Linked DNA regions of Homo sapiens: region 1 is linked to region 2. Evidence: fine-mapped expression QTL. A gene starts in region 2. The other region holds a variant in brackets. All regions are shown on one strand. Distances are between the middles of the regions.

What was found.
Region 1: its variant is fine-mapped to the expression of PCDH8 in thyroid (GTEx, PIP above 0.99).

Annotation. Positions count from the first base shown.
Region 1 is chr13:52,821,629-52,832,239 of GRCh38, reverse strand. No RefSeq gene overlaps it. Among named protein-coding and RNA genes, the nearest start is that of MIR759, 17 kb to the right of the region's middle. The variant C/A (reference allele first, on the strand shown) is at 4,670.
Region 2 is chr13:52,842,523-52,853,133 of GRCh38, reverse strand. It overlaps PCDH8 (protocadherin 8), which reads left to right and starts at 4,494. Exons shown (of 3, transcript NM_002590.4): 1 at 4,494-7,328; 2 at 7,502-7,709; 3 at 8,201-10,245. The coding sequence starts at 4,698. The coding sequence ends at 8,574. RefSeq lists enhancers at 1,582-1,791, 2,466-2,760, 4,106-4,400, 4,531-5,420, 5,421-6,309.

The sequences.
Region 1 (10,611 bases), 21 kb after region 2:
CTGGTGGGAGGTGATTGGATCATGGGGGCGGTTTCCCCCATGCTGTTCTCATGATGGTGAGTGAGTTCTCATGAGATCTGATGGTTTTATAAGGAGATCTTCTCTCTTTGCTTCCTACACACTCTCGTCTGCTGCCATGTAAGCCGTGCCTGCTTCCCCTTACTGCCATGATAGTAAGTCTCCTGAGGCTTCCCTGGGCATGCAGAACTGTGAGTCAGTTAAACCTCTTTTCTTTACGAATTACCTAGTCTCGGGCAGTATCTTTGTAGCAGTGTGAGAACTGACTAATACAGTGGCTTTTAGGTAGATTTGAGACGGGACTAGTTCTCAGTCTATTAGGTCTGGATGTAAAAGATTCTGGATGGGCTTGCAGTAACCCTGAGGAGGTAGAAGGTTAAAGCAGTGTTTCTCAAAGTACAATCATTGGACTTCTGGAGATTCTTTAGAATCTTCTGGAAGGTCCACTAGGATAAAACAATTTTCATAATACTACTATGTTATTTGCCTTTTTCACTGGGTTGACATTTGCTCTGATGATACAAAAGAAAGAGTGGGTGAAACTACTACTGGTGCCCTAGCACCAATCAAAATAAGAGTGCCACACTACTAATCACTGGATTTCTTGCACTTACAGAAAAAAGTCCTTAAGAATGACCTTGATGAATCAGTAATAAGTATTACTTTCATTAAATCTCAACCATTGAGTATATGTCTTTTTAACACTAATGTTCTGTGTGACAAAATGGACAGTATGCAGAGAACATTTCTGCTGTGTTCAGAAGCACTATGGTTGTCTCAAGGAAAAGCACTAGCCCAGCTGGGCATAGTGGCTCATACCTGTAATCCTAACACTCTGGGAGGCCGAGGCGAAGGGATCACTTGAGCCTAGGATTTCGAGACCAGCCTGGGTAACATGGCAAAACCCAATCTCAAAAAGGAAGAGAGACAGAGAGAGAGGGAGGGAGAGAGATAAGGAAAGAAAGAAAGAAAAGACAGAGCTCTCTGCTGGTAATAATACTAACAAATGTTAATGTTTCTAAATTTAGTTGATCTACATGACTCAGTGAATCAGTATTTTCCCAGTGGACAGTGGATGATGTCACAAAGTCATGCATAGGTAAATGATCTGTTTAAAGTGCAAGACAGACCAATGTAACAAGGGATGAAAAGTTCATTGATCTGGTTTCAGATTCCAGGGCCACTAATCTGTAAAATACTACCACTTGTAAAGTTTTGGTATAGCGGATCACAAAGAGGGCCACAATTAAATGAAAGGCTAATAAAATACTCTTCCCTTTTCCAACTACATGTCTGTATGATAATGGATTTTCTTCATATACTTAAACCAAAACAACATATTGCAACAGCTTGAATACAGGAGCAATTATGAGAATCCAATTATCTTCTATTCAGCCAGACACTAAAGAAATTCGTAAAAATGTAAAATAATGCCCGTTTCTCATAAAATTGTTTTGAAAAGATACTTATTTTTTGTAGTAATTATATTATTTTGTTAATATGTATTGGGCTCATCATTTTAAATTAGTTATTAATATTTTTAAGAATCTCACAGTTTTAATTTTAATACAGTAAGTATATATACATAAAACATTCATAAACAAAAGTTCTTCAGAGTTTTCAATAAGTTTCAAGAGTGTTACAAACCAAAAATTTGAGAACTACTGAAGTAGAGCATCATGTGAAGGTTAAATTAACAAATATTATATATAAAGTGTGTGGCTTATAAAAAGTGCCTAGTTATAACATTAATAGCCAATATATATTTACTATGTTCAAGCACTATTATAAGTGTTCATTTAACCCTCACAATACCTCTGTGAGATAAGTACAGTTATCTTTTTAAAGATGAGAAAAATGAGGCACAGAGAGGTTAAGCAACCTGTCCAAAGTTAAACAGCTAGTAAATGGTAGAATTAGGATTTGAACCCAAATAGTTTGGCTCCAGATCTGGGTTCCAAATACTTATATTATATTGTCAGTACCTGTTGATGTTGATGTTAGTCATTGTTGGTAATGGTTGTAAGCTAGATTCTGTAGTTTCACATGCTGTATTTATTTTCCTCTTATTATTTTAGGCCTCTTTATAAGGTGTTATTTAATATTCAAAATTAGTCTCAAATCTGCCATGGGATATTAAGGGACTGGAATAAGAGATGGTATTAGTGGAGAAAGCAGTACCACCTCCTATTTTCATGATAGAAACAGAAATTCACAAAGAGCTCAAAAGAATCAGGGCTAAAAAGTCCAGCTGTCCTTCCTCATGCAGAGATTTCACCTCTACAGTCAACTTTAGGGGATTCATGTTACATTTGTCAAGTAAGTTGGCACTTTCCCTATATGCAGACCCCAGCCCTCAAGAAAATGACAATCTAATTGAAGGGAATAAAACAAACATATGAAATAACAGCTAGAACAGATGATAGTAGCTAATTAAGTTCTAAATTAATATGAAACCAGATTGAAATTAAAAAAAATTTTCTTAGATGATTCAGAAAATACTTTGGAGCCTACAGTGCCTCTGGGTCATAATTAAGAACAGTAATTATTATTGTATTCCTGATGTCACAGAATTCTGAGTTCAATTCTTTCACATCTCAATTTGGCAAACTTTTTTTCTACGACTGGTAATCCTGGATTTGGTTCTCAGTTCTCCCCTACGCCCACATAGAGTGCTTTTTCCAGAATGAGCTTTGCTTAGTTGCCATCAGCTACCATCCCTGCACTAAGGGATGCTTTTTCTGTGCATCACTGGGATACTGTTGAGGACCTTTGTTATAACCCACGGAGTTTTGTTTTTTGTTGTTTTTTTTTTGAGACGGAGTCTCGCTACGTCGCCCAGGCTGGAGTGCAGTGGCGCGATCTTGGCTCATTGCAAGCTCCGCCTCCCGGGTTCACACCATTCTCCTGCCTCAGCCTCCGGAGTAGCTGGGACTACAGGTGCCCACCACCACCTCCAGCTAATTTTTTGTATTTTTAGTAGAGACCGGGTTTCACCGTGTGAGCCAGGATGGTCTCAATCTCCTGACATTGTGATCCACCCACCTCGGCCTCCCAAAGTGCTGGGATTACAGGCGTGAGCCACCGCGCCCGGCCACCCACGGAGCTCTTTTTATGGCTGATGCCTGTCAAGTACTGGTACCAACAGTGATTAGACTTCTAGGAGCTACTGGTCTGTTTTACTTTCATACACATCATGAAAGTTGTACGTAACCACGTTTCTTTTCCTGTTTTGATATATAGATGTTTAGAGCCAAGTTTGGGGCTAACCTGTTGCAGGCTCCCTTTTTGGTATATATTTCTATTTTGATCTTACTCTCAAGCTCATTTTTAAGTTACGTTCTTTTGTTCCTAATTGTAATTTTGCTGGCTTATATTTTATTTATCCTTAAAACCCAGTTTAAATTCTTGCAGGAATAAAGTGGGTTATAGATAACTGTTCTGTTCTGTTTCCAATATGGCCTTGTGCAAGTCCTTCAAATCTCTGGGCCTCGTAAATGCTCATCTCTAGAGTGCCTTTCAGCTCGAACATTTTACGATTCTTAGTAGTGGATATATCAGAATTATGGTTAATGGAATCTTTTAGGGCAATGTTAACCGAATTGTGCACTAAACATGTACAATATTTGCTGTGATCCGTCTTAGATGTTACCAATCAACCGGTATTTGGAAATAGATGCAAACAGTGGAGGGTGGAAATACCACTTTCACAATACTTCCCTCTGGTCTTTATCTGTGGCGAAGACATTTTTGCAATGCCTTGTTGAGCACCTACTTTGTGCAAGGCAGAATGCCAGGAGCAGAAACAGCGAATACAATATGCAAGATCTGGTCCCTGCACTTGAGAAGCTTAGCAAAGGGAAACAAACTCTTAGGAAGAGAGTACAAGGGAAGAAGTGAGAAAGGGCAGAAATGCTAAATCAGGGCTGAAATTAAAGGGCCAAACTCCTTAGCTCCTCATAACTAAAGCAAAGTCAGCCTCGACCAGAGAAGAGGTGCTGAGGGCCAGGGAGTCCCTCGGCTGGCCGCGCTGTGGCAGCAGCAGATGAGACCTAAGACCCTAGGTGAAGGAAACTGCTCGCCCTGCTGCTGGTGCCAGAGCTCTGCTCATGTTCATCCATAATAATAAGTACTTCACACGTGAGTTCACTTGTCTTTCCAGGCTCTGCCAAGTTTACGTGCCAGATGGCACTTGCCTCCCACATCTGATTTACTGTAGGGCAGACCAGCTGTGCCTCAGCCCAGGGCAGGCCCACATCTGGCAGCCAGTTGGTAAAATTCTCTCCATATGATGCTTGTGCCCTCATATCATATTCCCCAGAGCAATTCTCTTTCTGTCAACTTTATGTTTGTCTCTTCTCTGCTTATTCCTACGACTATTGTTGAATATCTCTTGGCAATGGATCTGCTTAAGCACCTTTATGTCAGAGAAAAGACTCTCACTGTGAAATGTAAATAATGCTACTACTATATTCTGTAGTAAAAATACTCACGGGTAAAGTAATGTGACAGACACGGATGGCTGCATACCCAAAAATTACTCCTTCCTTTTTCCTGTGTTGGTAAGGCTGACTATTCAGGGAGGCAACTCGCTCCTGCGAGGACCTCAATCCCCCAACCCCAAAGGATGTCAAGGGATTGCTCCAATGTG[C/A]CTCCATTTCCTTTTTTAGGTATTGGTTTGGAGATGAGAGGGTGACTAGGACTGGCCAATGATACATAAGTGAAAGTCTGGTCCGGGGATTCTAGAAATAATTTTGCCCTCTACAAAGAGAGAAAGACATCATCCAAAACAAATAAAAACATACATGCACACAAAGACTTGTCCCCGAGTGTTCAGGGCAGCTTTACTCACACCAGCCCGTATTAGTCCACTTTCGTACTGTGTCCGGAATTGGCGGGTTTTTGGTCTCACTGACTTCAAGAATGAAGCCACGGACCCTCGCGATGAGTATTACAGTTCTTAAAGATAGTGTGTCCAGAGTTTGTTCCTTCTAATATTCGGACGTGTTGAGTTTCTTCCTTCTGGTAGCTTCATGATCTCGCTGGCTTCACGACTGAAGCTGCAGACTTTCCCGGCGAATGTCACAGCTCTTACAGCGGCACATCCGCAGCTGTTTATTTCTCTTGGAGAGCTCATGGTCTTGCTGGTCTCAGGAATGAAGCTGCAGACTTTCCCCTTGAGTGTTACAGCTCAAAAAGACAGTCCGCACCCAAATAGTGAGCAGCATCAAGATTTACTGCAAAGAGCTAAAGAGCAAAGTCTCCACTGTGGAAGAAGACCCAAGCGAGTTGCCGGGGCTGGCTCCGCAGCCTGCTTTTATTCCCTTATCTGGCCCCACCCACATGCTGCTGATTGGTCCATTTTACAGAGAGCTGATTGATCTGTTTTGACAGGGTGCTGATTGGTGCGTTTACAAACCTTGAGCTAGACACAGAGTGCTGATTGGTGTATTTACAATCTTTTAGCTAGACATAAAGGTTCTCCAAGTCCACACCCAACTCAGGAGCCCAGCTGGCTTCCCCTAGTGGATCCCGCACCAGGGCTGTGGGTGGAGCTGCCTGCCACTCCCGCACCTCCCGCCTGCACTCCTCAGCTCTTGGGCAGTCCATGGGACCGGGCGACGTGGAGCAGGGGGTGGCGCCCATCAGGGAGGCTCAGGCTGCGTAGGAGCCCACTGCGGGGGTGCTCGGGCATGGCAGGCTGCAGGTCCTGAACCCTGCCCCATAGGGTGGCAGCTGAGGCCCCACAAGAATTCGAGCCTGGTGTGGTCCCGCCAGCAGTGCTGGGGGACCCGGCACCCCCTCTGCAGCTGCTGGTCCGGGTGCTAAGCCCTCCACTGCCCGGGGCCAGCGGCACCGGCCAGCCACTCTGAGTGAGGGGCCGCAGAGCCCAGGCCCACCCGGAACTCGAGCGCCGAATGCAGCCCAGGTTCCCGCCGGCACCTCTTCCTCCACACCTCCCAGCAAGCAGAGGGAGCCGGCTCTAGCCTCAGCCAGCCCAGAGAGAGGCTCCCACAGTGCAGCGGCAGGCTGAAGGGCTCCTCAAGCGTGGCCAGAGCGGACGCCGAGGCCGAGGAGGTGCTGAGAGTGAGCAAGGGCTGCCAGCACGTTTTCACCTCTCACTACTGCTATAAAGAAATACCTGAGACTGAGTAATTTGTAAAGAAAAACAGTTTTAATGGACTCACAGTTCCACATGGCTGGGGAGGCCTCACAATCATGATGGAAGGCAAAGGAGGAGCAAAGGCACATCTTACATGATGGCAGGCAAGAGAGTGTGTGCAGGGGAGCTGCCCTTTATAAAACCATCAGATCTCCTGAGACTTATTCACTATCACGAGAACAACATGGGAAAACCTGCCCTGGTGATTCAATTACCTCCCACTGGGTCCCTCCCATGACAGTGGGGTTTATGGGAGCTACAGTTCAAGATGAGATTTGTGTGGGGTCAGAGCTAAACCATATCACAGCCCTAAACTGCAAACAACTCAAATGTCTGCCTGCAGGTGAATGGATGACAAATGGTGGTATAGTCAAACAACAGACTACTACTCAGCAAGAAAAGGAGTGAACTACTGATACATGCAACCACATAGATGAGTCTTAGAATTAGTATGCAGCACCTGAGTCCATACTTTGTGTCTAATTTCTATGAAAACCTAGAAAAGATCAATTTAATCTATAGTGATAGGAAGCAGATCACTAGTCACTGGGGGATGGTGGGGAGATTGAGTGGAAAAGGGCTCAAAAGGACTTCTTGGGGTGATGAAAGTCTTCTGTATCTTGATTGTAGTGAAGATTATACAGATGTATACATTCGTCAAAACTTATCTGGCCATATACTCAAAATAGGTGAACTTTGTTACATGAAATTCTATTGCAATAAATTTGAAATGGAATGAAAGAAGTAAGAAGAAAGCTTGTACCTTCTTCCTCCATGAATATTGTTGTACAGAGATGCATGCTTGGAGCTGAGACAACCATCCTGCAGCTACAAGATGATAAACCTGCAATTCCCAAACCATGCACTGAGGCACCCTGGAATGCTACAGTGAACTCCAGAGGCATCACAATGTAAATTTGCAGGGGAAAATTTTAAAAACAGTGATAACATATCAAGCATCATGAAAACTGCTAGATCCAGACAGTTCCTACTTTCAATATTAGATTGCACTAAATTCCTTTTGATAGCATATCTTTGTGAAATGCGGTTTTCAGCAGTTGTAATTTTTTTAAAGTACTGTGCAAAAATGAAAATGCAATGGGAGTTGAGGATAGCAGTAAAGTTCAAGAAATTGTATAGTGCCCATCAGAATTATGGATCCCATTAGTAAATAATTACAGTTATTTACCAATGAAATGAAAATACTTTGTCTTTCAATTTGTGTGTATTATTTTTTTCAAATGGCTACTCAATTATTAGGTCATGAATATCTACTAAATTGTTTGGACCTATTAATAATTACCCAATAAACATAAATTTTAGGTATTTATTTTGGCCTAGTGGCACCATTAAAAAAAAATCACTGAGACACTAAGGGTACTACAGACCAGAAAGTTTGGGACCCTTTGTAATAAACCTGAGTAAAAAGCCAACATGCTTAAGGAGTATAAATATACAGTTAGATAGAAAAAATAAGTTCTAATCTTTGATAGCAGAGTGGGCAACTGTAGTTAACAACAATGTATTCTATTTAAAAATAGCTAGAAGAGAGGACTTGAAATGTTCCCAACGTATAGAAATGAGAAATAGTGGAGGTGATGGAGACCCCAAATACCTGACTTGATCATTACACAGTCTATGCATGTGACAAAATATCACATATACTCCATAAATATGTACAAATATGTGTATCAATAAAAATGTTTGTTTAAGCCAATATGCTAAGAATGGCTGAGCAGATAAAAAGAGCTGGGGTCTTTAGTAATATCACTGCCTTGCCACACACGCATACAATGAAATACCTACCTCCAGACTTTTATGTAAGATACATAAATGTCAATACAATAAATGTCTTTATGGCCTAAGCCACTATGATAAGACTAAAAAATCAAATAAATAAGAAGAATCATCTACATACCCCACATCCTGACTTTCCTCCTTGAAAGTAAGGCATGTATCCTTTGAGTGCCTTCTCTATGCATTTGTATGCAAATAGTTATCTCTAAGTGTGTTTATAACATAAATGTAACAGTTTTATAACTTGATTTTTTCACTTATGCCTTAAAGAGTTTTTGAAACTGCTGCTTATATCGCACTGTGTGAATGTACCATTCCATTATAGATGCGTATTCAGAGGATATCCAATTTTTAAGATAAGCATCATTGTGGTGAATACCCTTGTAAATGTTTCTGATGCAACATGCCAGTATTTCTGCAGCTATAGAGATGCCTTGGAGTGATAATTCAAAGAATGTACAAATTTTGAATTTTGGAAGATACCGATGGGCTGAACCAATTCAGTAGCGAGTAAGAGTACCAATTTCCCCATGCCCTTGTTAAAGTGGTCATGGTGGATGCCTCCTTATCCACGTGATAAGGATAAGCCCATTTCCCTTTCCAGAGATGGGTTTAGGGAGGGAAATGTGACCCAATTCTGGGCTAATGAACCACGAAGGAAAATGTGCCTGGGGAAACTTCTAGAAAGGTTTCCTTACTCCTAAAAGAGTCACAAGAGAAAAGATCCCCTCTTCTTGTGAAACTTTTCAGGACTGGATGTGGTATCTGGAACAGGCTTAACCCTTTTGCCACTCTTAAGAGTTACGGCCTTAGGATGAAGTTTGGCAGAGCACTAAAGAAAGGTCATTATAAGTCACTGAAGGTACCACACCAGGAAGTGGCCATATCTGTAGACATTTGGTTATGTCAAATAACAAATTCACTAACTCTTCAAGGCAGTTTAAATCATGTGTTTATGCTACCTACAACCAAAAAGCTTACTGATATATATGTGATATTATTGAATGGTTTCTATCATTTAAAATTTGTGTTCAATCTTAGTGTGGATAAAAATTGATGTCACATTCTTATTTTAATTTGCATTTCCCTTTTATTAATAATGTTGAGTGTTTTTCACATATATATTGACTTTTGTATTTCTTCTACTGTGAATTGCTTATTCACGTCCCTTGTTCATTTTTTTTTGATTGTCTGTTGATTTATGAGAGTTCTTTAAGTATAATATACATTAATCCTTTGTGTATTTTATATCTTGCAAATACTACCTCCCACAGAGAATTTTTGTGTCTTGGATTTTGTTTTGTTTTGTTTTGTTTTGTGTAGTCAAATCTACCCATTTTTTCTTTTCTGTTTTTTTTAATCTGTGTCTTACATAAGAAGGCTTTCTCCATTTCAGCATAATTTTTCTTAAATCTCCTATTTTTCCAATATTTTAAAGTTTAGGTTTTATGATTAGCTTTTTAATACCTCACCCATTTATTTTTGTGTTGGCACAAGGTTAAATTCCAACTTTATTTTTCAAAATGAATAGGTACTTTTCCCAACATTGTTCTGAACATCACCTCCCACTACCTGAAATGCCATTTTCATCAAAAACTAAAGTGCCATAAATTGATTTGTGTTTCTGGATCCTCTATTCTGTATTACTAATCTGTCACTTTTTGCACAAGTTTAATTCTTAAACTTGAGGACCATATTTTGATATCTGGTAGGGCAAGCCTCTCCTCCACTACTTATCAAAATGTTTCCCAGTTATTCTTATGCTTTTTCTCCCCCAGATTAATTTTAGTATATGTTTACCAAATTCTGGGGATTTTATTTGGATGGCAGTGACTCCAAAGACTGCCTTGGGGAGCACTGTCATCTTTACAATGTTGAGTAATTCCATTTTGGGTGTGTCTCTGTTTTCAGGGTTCAATTCTTGGTTTTTATAATAATGTTGTCATCATCATTTTATAGTTTTTTTCATTATTGCTCTTGCCCATTTCTTGTTAGGGTTATCATATCAGTATTCTTGGTGTTTTGTGCATTTTATTGTTGTGAATATGATTTGAATCTTTTATCCCTCTTGTTTTCTTAGTTATTTCTAGTATATAGAGAAGCTATTAATTTGTGGAGATTAATTTTGTGCCTAGCCATCTTACTGACCTATCTTATAGGATCCAACTATTTGTCAGTTGATTTGCTTGCACTTCCTAGCCAGGTTATATAAAATATTGTTCTTGATTTGGTTTAATGCATTTGACCTTGACATTGTTTCATCTGATACCAAAATGACCATACTTGCTCTTTTAGTCAAACTTTTCCTGGGAAATATTTTCCCATCTCTTTATTTCCAACCTTAATGTGTGTGCATGCGGTATGTGTGGGTTGTTTATTTGATTTAGATCTGTTTTTTAGGCCAGGCATGGTGGCTTACACCTGTAATCCCAGAACTTTGGGAGTCCGAGGTGGGTGAATCACCTGAGATCAGGAGTTTGAGACCAGCCTGGCCAACACGGCTAAACCCTATCTCTACTAAAAATACAGAAATTAGCCAGGCATGGTGGCACATGCCTGTAGTCCCAGCTACTCGGGAGGCTGAGGCAGAAGAATCGCTTGAACCCAGGAGGCAGAGGTGCAGAGGTTGCAGT
Region 2 (10,611 bases):
TAAGATACAGACAGGCCGGGCGCCGTGGCTCATGCCTGTAATCCCAGCACTTTGGGAGGCTGAGGCAGGATGATCACTTGAAGTCAGGAGTTCAAGACCAGCCTTGCCAACATGGTGACACGGTGAAACCCCGTCTCTACCAAAAAATACAAAAATTAGCTGGGTATGTGTGGGGGTGCAGGCCTGTAATCCCAGCTACACAGGAGGCTGAGGCATGAGAATCGCTTGAGCCCACGAGGCAGAGTTTGCCATGAGCGGAGATCACGCCAGGGCACTCCAGCCTGGGCAACAGAGCAAGACTCCATCTCAAAAAACAAACAGAAAACAAAAACAAAAAACAATACAGAGAGAAAATAATTTGCACGGGTCACACAGCCAATCAGTGTAATGATCAGATTTGAACCCAAGCAGGATGATTCCAGATCCTGCAGTCAACAGCTGCGTTCTGCTTCTTATCAGGTAAAGCAGGTCTCCCAGAGTGACACACAGAACACACAAAATGAAGAGTGGCCCAAGATCTGGAAATGATCCAGGGTTTGTGAGCATCTGGCACTGGAATCAATCCAAAATCAATGTTTAAATAACAGTTACCTTCACCCCCAAATTGTCTCATTGTCTGACTGCTGAATTTGAATCAGGGCTATGGAGAATGCTGCTTTGTGGTTTACTATACAGTTTAAAAGTCACCATGCCTATACTGACAGCCCAACAAATACACACACAGAGAGAGATAACTTTAAAAAAAAAGAAAAAAAAAGAATTTGGAGTGTAGAAAACAGCTTGGTTGCATTTCTAGTGCACCAACCCCAGAAAACCCAGAGGCTTCAGAATTTGATGAGATTTTTGCAAAGTGTGTTTTCACTACAAAAATGAATTAGATGCCCCGAAGAGCTTCCTCTGTTCTTTGCTTGGCCAAGCACTTGCTGCAAACTTCCCTGAGGGGTTTACCCAATGGTGAGCCTGTAGGAGGAAAAACCAGGGCCCTGGGCTTATTTTTAAAGGAAAAAAAAAAGTAAAAGTTTAAAAAATAACCCCTCTTCATCCATCCTTAGAATTACACTTTCCAGTGAAGTCTAGTACCCTTTCCTGGTAGATATAATCCTAATTAAAAATAAATTACATGCTGTATAGAACTTGAAATGGACAAGATAATCCTATTACATATGAGAATATATCCTGATTTTCTTTCCCGCTAAACTGTGGGAGATATCAGATCAGTCTGAGCCCCCCATTGTCGCCTCTTTGAAAACTTTCCTGGAGCCCTAATCCATCACGTGACGCCCATGTCAATCTTGGTGTTTGCACGCGAGTTTCACAATGCCGGCATTAGGCTCGGTAACAGAAACCCAGCTTTGCGGAGCCCGCAACATTTGCATTCCGAGAAAACGCCGGCCATTGTGGAGCTGTGTTTGTTCTCAAGATTGCGAGACAGTTGCCGGCGAAGTTGCTAAAACCGAGAGAAAGGGGCTCCTTTGGGCCTGCCCAGACCTTTTGGTATGATAACAAGGCGATTCGAGCGGCTTTTGTGAGGCCTGATCAGCACCCGGGCGGGCGAGCTCCCCTCCCTTTCCCCTACTCCTCTCCAGCGCCACCTCCCCGGACATATTTTCCTTCCCGGGGAGTTGCTGCGGACGTTGATGTGCTATTTTAAATCGTATTTCCATAATCGAGTGGCTGTCCGCTGCCGGCCCGGAGCTCACGGTGTTCGCGTGCCTTCACACCTCCACCGCCGGCACGGAAAGACCTGTGCGCGCCGGTGGCGGCTGGAGGCTCGCGGCTCCCTTCCCGGGCTCCCCGGCTCCCAGCTCTCAGCCTCCCGGCGCCGCCGCCGTCGTGGCTACTTCCGATCGACGAGGGCCTGGCCGCGGAAAAAACACTTTAGACCTGCTACCAGCCACCCTACACCCCTCCTCCCGCCTCCTGGCTTTTGCCTGCCCCTACTCCCCTTTCCTTTTCCCACTTTCAAGCACGCCTTGGTTTATTTCAGCCTTGAGAATGAGCATGCTGACGCGGAAGCACTTTGAGTAGAAATTGCAAGTAGTTCCGAATCTCTGGCCAAGCGAAAAACCCAAACTTAGCGCGTGGCGGGGCTCCCGAGTCCAGCCCAGAACTGCGGGGTGCAGATGCGCAGGGGGCGCTGGCGCGAGGTCCGGGTCCCAGCCATTCGCGGCCGGGCTGTGCTCGCGGAAACCGCTGAAATCCCTTCCTTTGGGACTCCGGCCCCATTTCCACCCACTTTCCCCACCTTCCGGGTCCTCCGCCCGGCAGCAGCAGCGCCAGGCGGGCCTGACCTTGCCCTGGGTACGCCAGCGGAAGCGCTGAGGCCGCTGTCCACCAGCCAAGTTCTGAACCTGTTCCCGTCTGGGTCTCCGGGGGAAGAGGGGTGAGGAGAGATGACGTTAGCCTAGGGGCGCTAAAGGTCACCAGCCAGCCCCAGGTTGGGGTGGGAGTGTTGCGGGGCTCGGAAGGAAAATAGAAAGTTCCTTCGACTGCGTGTACCCCCCAAGGAATATCTCTTGGGCGGGGACGGTGGGAGGGCTACATACTAAATCGCACTTGGGAGATGGAAGACAGCGGAAGAAAGGGCTGCGATTTGGGCTCCTGTAGGGGGCGCTCCTCCTTCCACGTCCCCACGCGGCTGCAGATGCCTGGCCTTATTGCTTTTAGCATTCCCAAGACTACAAGGTGGAAGAGGTGGAGAAGGGAACCCAGAGACACACCCCTCTGAGGAAGTCTCCAGCCACTCATCATCCCCCTCCCCAGTCTTATAAGAGCTTGTATTTATGGATGGCTGGAGCTGCATGTTCCGCTCTCTGACAATTCCAAGCACCTCTCATCCCTGCCACCCAGCTCCCTGCTTGGTCTCCCTACTCCAAGGAAACTCCTGACCCTCTTCTGAAAAAAAACCCAAAACACACTCCCTCGAGTTTGAGGGAAAGGAAAACATGGATAGGACGCTGACAGCAGGACCAAAATCGGGATTCTGAAGAATGTTTACTGAATTCAATCTACTTACCAAACCTATCGCCTAAAAAGAAAAATTTCTTCCAGTGAGTGGCTTTTGTTTTTTACCTTTCCTCCTTCGTGTGTATTTGCATAGCCTGCTCAATAAAGCCCTTCAGTAAGAATCATTAAGAATCCGTCTTGTTGCAGATCCGAGCTCCATCTCCCTGGCCGTCAGGGATGGGAGGGGGCTATCTGTGGGGCAGCGCAGCGCCCGGCCAGCCCCAGGATCCGCCCAGCCCAGATTTTGGCAGTGCCGAAGCTCCACACTTTCCTAAGCAGATGGTTAAGTTCCCCCCACGTTCCTGCCAGGTTTCAACGTCACGCTGTGATTTTGTTCTTCTGGAACCGGACGAGTGTTGCTTCCCAGAGTGGCCCTATTAGAACAGAAAGAAAATCCTCTAAATAGGCGGAACAAGGCATCAGGAGGAAAAAGTTCTCTAAATGCACTTTAATACGAGCCGGGTATTGTGTGGAATTCAGCGCCCATCACCGTTTAGCCGGAGAGTTATGGCAGTGATTGGGGATGAATAGAGGAACATAATGGATACATGTGGCGTTTGCTCATTATATTCAAGTTAGTCCAACTCCGCTGTGGAAACTGTTCAACTTTCTCTCCCCTTAGCTTGTCACAGTGAAATAATACAGACATTGGGGCCTCCAATGGGATCGCCTGCCACACCATTCTATTTCCACTGCTAACGAGGGCTTCATAAGCCTTTGATACAGTCTGATCTTTGAAACCTTTCCAAATCTCCTCAAGCTTATGCTAAATCCTATTTGGAACTTTTTTTTCCTTGCCTGCTAGCTCCCAGGGCTTAAGAAGGCCACTTGGACAGTGACGTGCATACTAACATATCGCGGGGCTCTTTTCTGAAAGGGAAGTGGCAGCTCTGATCACTGGGGCTCACACGAGCAAAACACAATTGAGTACACAAATTTGAATAAAATCAATTTTCCCTTATCCTTCAGGCTTCTTAATCGAGAGGCTATTCCAGGCACCGTAGCTAGGAGAGAAGGAAAGCAGAGCCTCATTCAGCAGAGCAAGTCTGTGGGTAGGGGGCTGCAAGGGTTTGGAAGCGTCAGAGGTGCAAAATGCAGAGTGTGTGTGTTGGCAGGGGCTGGGGGAAGGCGGAATCAGGAGCCACTGGGGTGAAACCCCAGCGTGTTCGCACTTAGTTCTAGCCGCGGCACGGAGGGAGGCAGGCGACAATTAACAAAACCATCCGCTCCTTTTACTCCTGGAGCCCTGTGCCAACTCCTCTACATGCAGGGTGCTGACAAGAAAAGGGGGAAAAAGCAAAAGGAGTTAAACAAAAGAAAGATTCCCTAATTTTCCTTTCTTGTTTTCCCCTCTAAGCCTTTCCACATTAAAGGGATTGTCAGAGGCAGGCGGAGGGGCGACGCGAGGGGGAGGCGGCCATTGGCTACCCGGCTCGGGTGATTAGCATATCGGCGGCTATAAAGGCAAAGGCGGCGCGAGGCGGCGCAGCTTCTGTAAGAGACGGAGAGGCGCAGAGTGAGGGCGGGTCCGCGCGTCCTCAGAGCCCGCTGGAGGCTCGGAGCTGCTACCCGCAGACTTCTCCCGCACAGGGCTCGCAAAGAGCGTGATTCCGAGAGCCTGAGACTGACGCCCGACCTGGAAACCAGAGAAGACTTCCTTAGCCTTTCGGATCGCACTTGAGGCTGGAGGCATGAGTCCTGTGAGGCGTTGGGGCAGCCCCTGCCTTTTCCCCTTGCAGCTCTTCAGCCTCTGCTGGGTGCTCTCAGTGGCCCAGAGCAAAACAGTCCGATACAGCACCTTCGAGGAGGATGCCCCCGGCACGGTCATCGGGACCCTGGCCGAGGACCTGCATATGAAAGTATCGGGTGACACAAGCTTCCGCCTGATGAAGCAATTCAACAGCTCTCTGCTCCGGGTGCGCGAAGGCGACGGGCAGCTGACCGTCGGGGACGCCGGCCTGGACCGCGAGCGGCTGTGTGGCCAGGCCCCGCAGTGCGTGCTGGCCTTCGATGTGGTCAGCTTCTCGCAGGAGCAGTTCCGGCTGGTGCACGTGGAGGTAGAGGTGAGGGACGTCAACGACCACGCGCCGCGCTTCCCCAGGGCCCAGATCCCGGTAGAGGTGTCCGAGGGTGCGGCAGTGGGCACGCGCATCCCCTTGGAGGTGCCGGTGGACGAGGACGTGGGCGCCAACGGGCTGCAGACCGTGCGCCTGGCCGAGCCGCACAGCCCCTTTCGCGTGGAGCTGCAGACGCGAGCGGACGGCGCTCAGTGCGCAGACCTGGTGCTGCTGCAGGAGCTGGACCGCGAGAGCCAGGCCGCCTACAGCCTGGAGCTGGTGGCCCAGGACGGCGGCCGCCCGCCGCGCTCCGCCACGGCTGCCCTCAGCGTGCGCGTCCTGGATGCGAATGACCACAGCCCGGCCTTCCCGCAGGGCGCCGTGGCCGAAGTGGAGCTGGCGGAAGACGCGCCCGTGGGCTCCCTGCTTCTCGACCTGGACGCAGCCGACCCCGACGAGGGACCTAACGGCGACGTGGTGTTCGCATTTGGCGCCCGCACCCCGCCGGAGGCGCGCCGCCTCTTTCGGCTTGACCCGCGATCAGGCCGCCTCACCCTGGCCGGGCCCGTGGACTACGAGCGTCAGGACACCTACGAGCTGGACGTGCGGGCGCAGGACCGCGGACCCGGGCCCCGCGCTGCCACCTGCAAGGTCATCGTGCGCATCCGAGACGTCAATGACAACGCACCCGACATCGCCATCACCCCGCTGGCCGCCCCAGGCGCGCCGGCAACCTCACCCTTCGCCGCTGCCGCCGCCGCCGCTGCACTCGGGGGAGCGGACGCTAGCTCGCCGGCGGGAGCCGGGACGCCGGAGGCTGGTGCCACTTCGCTGGTGCCGGAGGGGGCGGCGCGCGAGAGCCTGGTGGCCCTGGTCAGCACCTCGGACAGGGACTCGGGCGCCAACGGGCAAGTGCGCTGCGCCCTCTATGGGCACGAGCACTTCCGGCTGCAGCCGGCCTACGCGGGCAGCTACCTGGTGGTGACCGCGGCGTCGCTGGACCGCGAACGCATCGCCGAGTACAACTTGACGCTGGTGGCCGAGGATCGCGGCGCGCCCCCGCTGCGCACAGTGCGGCCCTACACGGTGCGTGTGGGCGACGAGAACGACAACGCGCCGCTCTTCACGCGGCCGGTCTATGAGGTGTCGGTGCGCGAGAACAACCCGCCAGGCGCCTACCTGGCCACGGTGGCCGCCCGCGACCGGGACCTGGGCCGCAACGGCCAGGTCACCTACCGGCTGCTGGAGGCCGAGGTGGGCCGCGCCGGGGGCGCCGTGTCCACTTATGTCTCGGTGGACCCAGCTACCGGAGCCATCTACGCGCTGCGCAGCTTCGACTATGAGACGCTGCGCCAACTCGACGTTCGCATCCAAGCTAGCGACGGCGGCTCCCCTCAGCTTTCCAGCAGCGCCCTAGTGCAAGTGCGCGTGCTGGACCAGAACGACCATGCGCCAGTCCTGGTGCACCCGGCGCCAGCCAATGGCTCCCTAGAAGTGGCGGTGCCTGGGCGCACCGCAAAGGACACGGTTGTGGCCCGTGTGCAGGCCCGGGATGCAGACGAGGGAGCCAACGGGGAGCTGGCGTTCGAGCTGCAGCAGCAGGAGCCGCGCGAAGCCTTCGCCATCGGCCGCCGCACGGGGGAGATACTGCTCACCGGCGACCTCTCGCAGGAGCCACCCGGTCGCGTGTTCAGGGCGCTCCTGGTCATATCCGACGGCGGCCGTCCCCCGCTCACCACCACCGCAACTGTCAGCTTCGTGGTAACAGCAGGGGGCGGGCGTGGGCCGGCTGCGCCTGCCAGTGCAGGAAGCCCGGAGCGTTCCCGCCCGCCTGGCTCTCGGCTCGGGGTGTCCGGGTCGGTGCTGCAATGGGACACGCCGCTGATCGTCATCATCGTGCTGGCCGGGAGCTGCACGCTGCTGCTGGCCGCCATCATCGCCATCGCCACCACCTGCAACCGCCGCAAGAAGGAGGTGCGCAAAGGGGGGGCCCTCCGGGAAGAGCGGCCCGGGGCGGCGGGCGGCGGAGCCTCGGCTCCCGGCTCCCCGGAGGAGGCCGCCCGGGGAGCCGGGCCCAGGCCCAACATGTTCGACGTGCTCACCTTCCCTGGCACCGGCAAAGCGCCCTTTGGCAGCCCCGCGGCGGACGCGCCTCCGCCTGCGGTCGCCGCGGCCGAAGTGCCGGGCTCAGAGGGCGGCAGCGCCACTGGGGAAAGCGCCTGTCACTTCGAGGGGCAGCAGCGGCTCCGCGGCGCGCACGCCGAGGTGAGGCCTTCCTTCGGCTGGGCGCCCCCCTCCGAGCTCCGCGGACAGGCTGGGGGAAGGGAGACTGGAGGGGTAGGGTGGGTGCATTCAGGTAGACAACCTGTCGCACTTGTTTTTTGTTTGTTTCTTATCCAACCCTCCCCCCACTCCCATTCCCCTATTCCCTGCTGCAGCCCTACGGTGCCTCCCCGGGTTTTGGAAAGGAGCCGGCGCCCCCTGTGGCGGTGTGGAAAGGACACTCCTTCAACACCATTTCTGGCAGAGAAGCAGAGAAGTTCAGCGGCAAAGACAGCGGTAAAGGGGACAGTGATTTCAACGACAGCGATTCCGACATCAGCGGGGACGCTCTGAAAAAGGATCTCATCAACCACATGCAGAGTGGTGAGGACTCTTCTTTCCCGCCAAATTCGGCATTCCTCCCTTCCCTCCCCTTCACCACTGTTTGCCTCCTCTCAATCTCGGTTCCCAGCCCCCTTCCCTCTTCCCCACTTTTTCTCACTCCTACAGCTGCGGATACGGGCCTGCCTCACACGGTGAATTTCAAAATGCCAAGTCGAGGCAACTCCAGCTCTTGAATAAAACACACCCTCATCCTGTTAGGCAGCAGCATGGGTGATGCTAGCCATTAAAAAGTGGGTTCTGCTTATCAATTTTTTTTTTCACTTCCAGCTGAAGAAGCTGGACCAGCTTTGCATTAAGATGGCTTTACAGGAAGCAATGTGCCTTCGATTCTTGAGACACGGTGTATATCTATGCGCACAGCCTTTCCTTTCAGCTGCCCTGACCCAGGCTGACATGCTGAAGATGGAAGCCTGAATATGTATAATCTCAGGAATAATCGTCATGCTGTTTCCTTTTCCCTTTCGTATTAGGACTGTGGGCGTGCACCGCTGAGTGTAAGATCCTGGGCCACTCTGACCGCTGCTGGAGCCCATCCTGCAGCGGGCCCAACGCACATCCATCGCCTCACCCACCAGCCCAGATGTCAACCTTCTGTAAGAGCACGTCACTGCCTCGGGATCCTCTGCGCAGGGACAATTACTACCAGGCCCAGCTGCCCAAGACAGTGGGGCTGCAGAGCGTCTATGAGAAAGTACTGCACAGAGACTATGACAGGACAGTCACTCTGCTCTCCCCTCCCCGTCCAGGGAGGCTCCCAGACCTGCAGGAGATTGGAGTACCCCTCTACCAGTCCCCTCCTGGCAGGTACCTGTCCCCGAAGAAGGGAGCCAATGAAAATGTGTAATCCCATGCTGCATGTCTTCACACATATACAGGTCACTCCGAGAAGCCCCTAAGTTATTGACCGGTTTCAGTGTTGTATATATAAATATGCAAGATGTGCCTTACAATGAAGTTGTTGGAAGCTATTTCCAATCACATTGGTACTGTTTGGTATTTGCAAACAAAAATGTAGTTAATGTAATTTTTATGAAATGTGTGCAGTATTTAATTTTTCTTATGCTATTGACTTTGATTTCAATTGCGGCTTGCCATTTTCTTAGTGTTTTTAACCTGTACATTGTGTAATGTAATGTTTGTATATAATGAAATTTTGTTATATTTTTATATAATAAAAGCTAAAGTGGAAGTTATTGCCAAAGGAACTGTCTGTAAGACAAAAAACAAAACATGTTGGAATTACTTAATTGAAATTTATCTTTCACCTGAAACAACCTAGTGTTTGAGAAATTTTGCCTTGCCAAGTATAACTTGTATATCTTGACTCTGTGGTAGATTTCAAGTTCAATGTTATTTAATTACATTTGGTTTTCCGTAAACCGTGTCACTTATAAGCACAGTAATAAAAGATTTGTCATGTGTTTGAAGAATCTGCCAATTGCTTTTCATGAAGCTGCCTATAGTCAGACATTCACAAATAATTTGAGTATCAGAATGAAACCTTCTTTCAAGTGCTAATTATTTGGGCATTATTAATGTTCATGACAATATTAAACCTGTAGGATTTCAAGTATTGCAAAATGTCACCCAAGTATTAAAAACGTGTGTTGATTTCATAAATTATGTGCATCTCCATATGTATTAGTCTATAAAATCCCTGCTCTCATTTATTCACTAGGTAAATATTCATTGAGCAGCCACCAAAAAGTGAAGAAAGCTAAGTTTGGGTTGTTCATTCACTAATTAAACAAGCATCTGTAGAACTTTTACTAGCTGCTGGTACCTCCTCCTCAAGCTGGAGTTTGAGGTGAAGAAGACGTAGTCCCAAAGAGCCCTCAGCTTATTCGGGGTGTTAGTATCAAAAAGACTAACATCTTAGTCTTTTGGAATATAATAGGTTCCCACTACATTCTGTCCTACTTCCTCTTTCCTTGCCTTCCTCTGGAGCCAGTCTCCAAAGTAACTATCAGCTCTATTCCACTCAAATTTATGGGCAAAATGACATGATGTTTGGGATTCGCTTTAAAATGTTCTAGAAAAAAACACAGGGAGCTATGTGAAACAAGATCGATTTGATAAGATATTGATAATTGTCAATGCTAGCATAGGTGCATGTGAGGTAGGGAAATTTCAGCAGTATCTCTAAATGTTTGTGTTTGAAAATGTACATAATGGAAAGTCTTAAAAAAAGACACTCAAGAGTACTATGCCTATGTCTTATACTCTATGGATTTCATTTGAAATTAAAATGATGATAAGCATAATGAGACCTAACATTTACTGAGCAAGTCTTCTGTGAGCAGAGCTCCTTACCAAGCATTCTGCATGAATTATCTCATTTAATCAGCAAACTACCCCCAGGATATGGGAAGTATCATTAACTCCATTTTGCAATTAAAGAAACCGAGGCACAAGAAGGTTAGATAAAATGCCAAAAATCACACAGCTAATAAGTATCCAGGGTGAGATTCAAACCTAGGTTATTCAGTGCAAAAAATAAAACAAAGTAATGAAACAAGTTGTTTTTGATTTGCTTTTTTTTTTTTACCTGAAAGAAACAAGGAGTTATGTAGAAAAGTCCCAATGCATTGCCTTTGCTGCATGATTACTGTTTAGCCCTTTATATTTGTGAAGTGCCTGTGTTCCTTTATTACTAATTATAGAGTGTGCGGCAGTGTAATGAATAGAGAAGGCCTCAAAGCTGCCTGTTGAAGTCATAATTGAAACCAGTGGTAGCTCCAGGCTGAACAGCAGGGTGGGTACACACAAGTGCTTCACCACCCACAGCCCGTGCAAAGTTCAGCCGTTTCTGCAGGCAACGGAGTCGCACGTGCGCCTGACAAGCTCAGACCGCCCAGACCGTGGGTTCCGAAAGAAAACA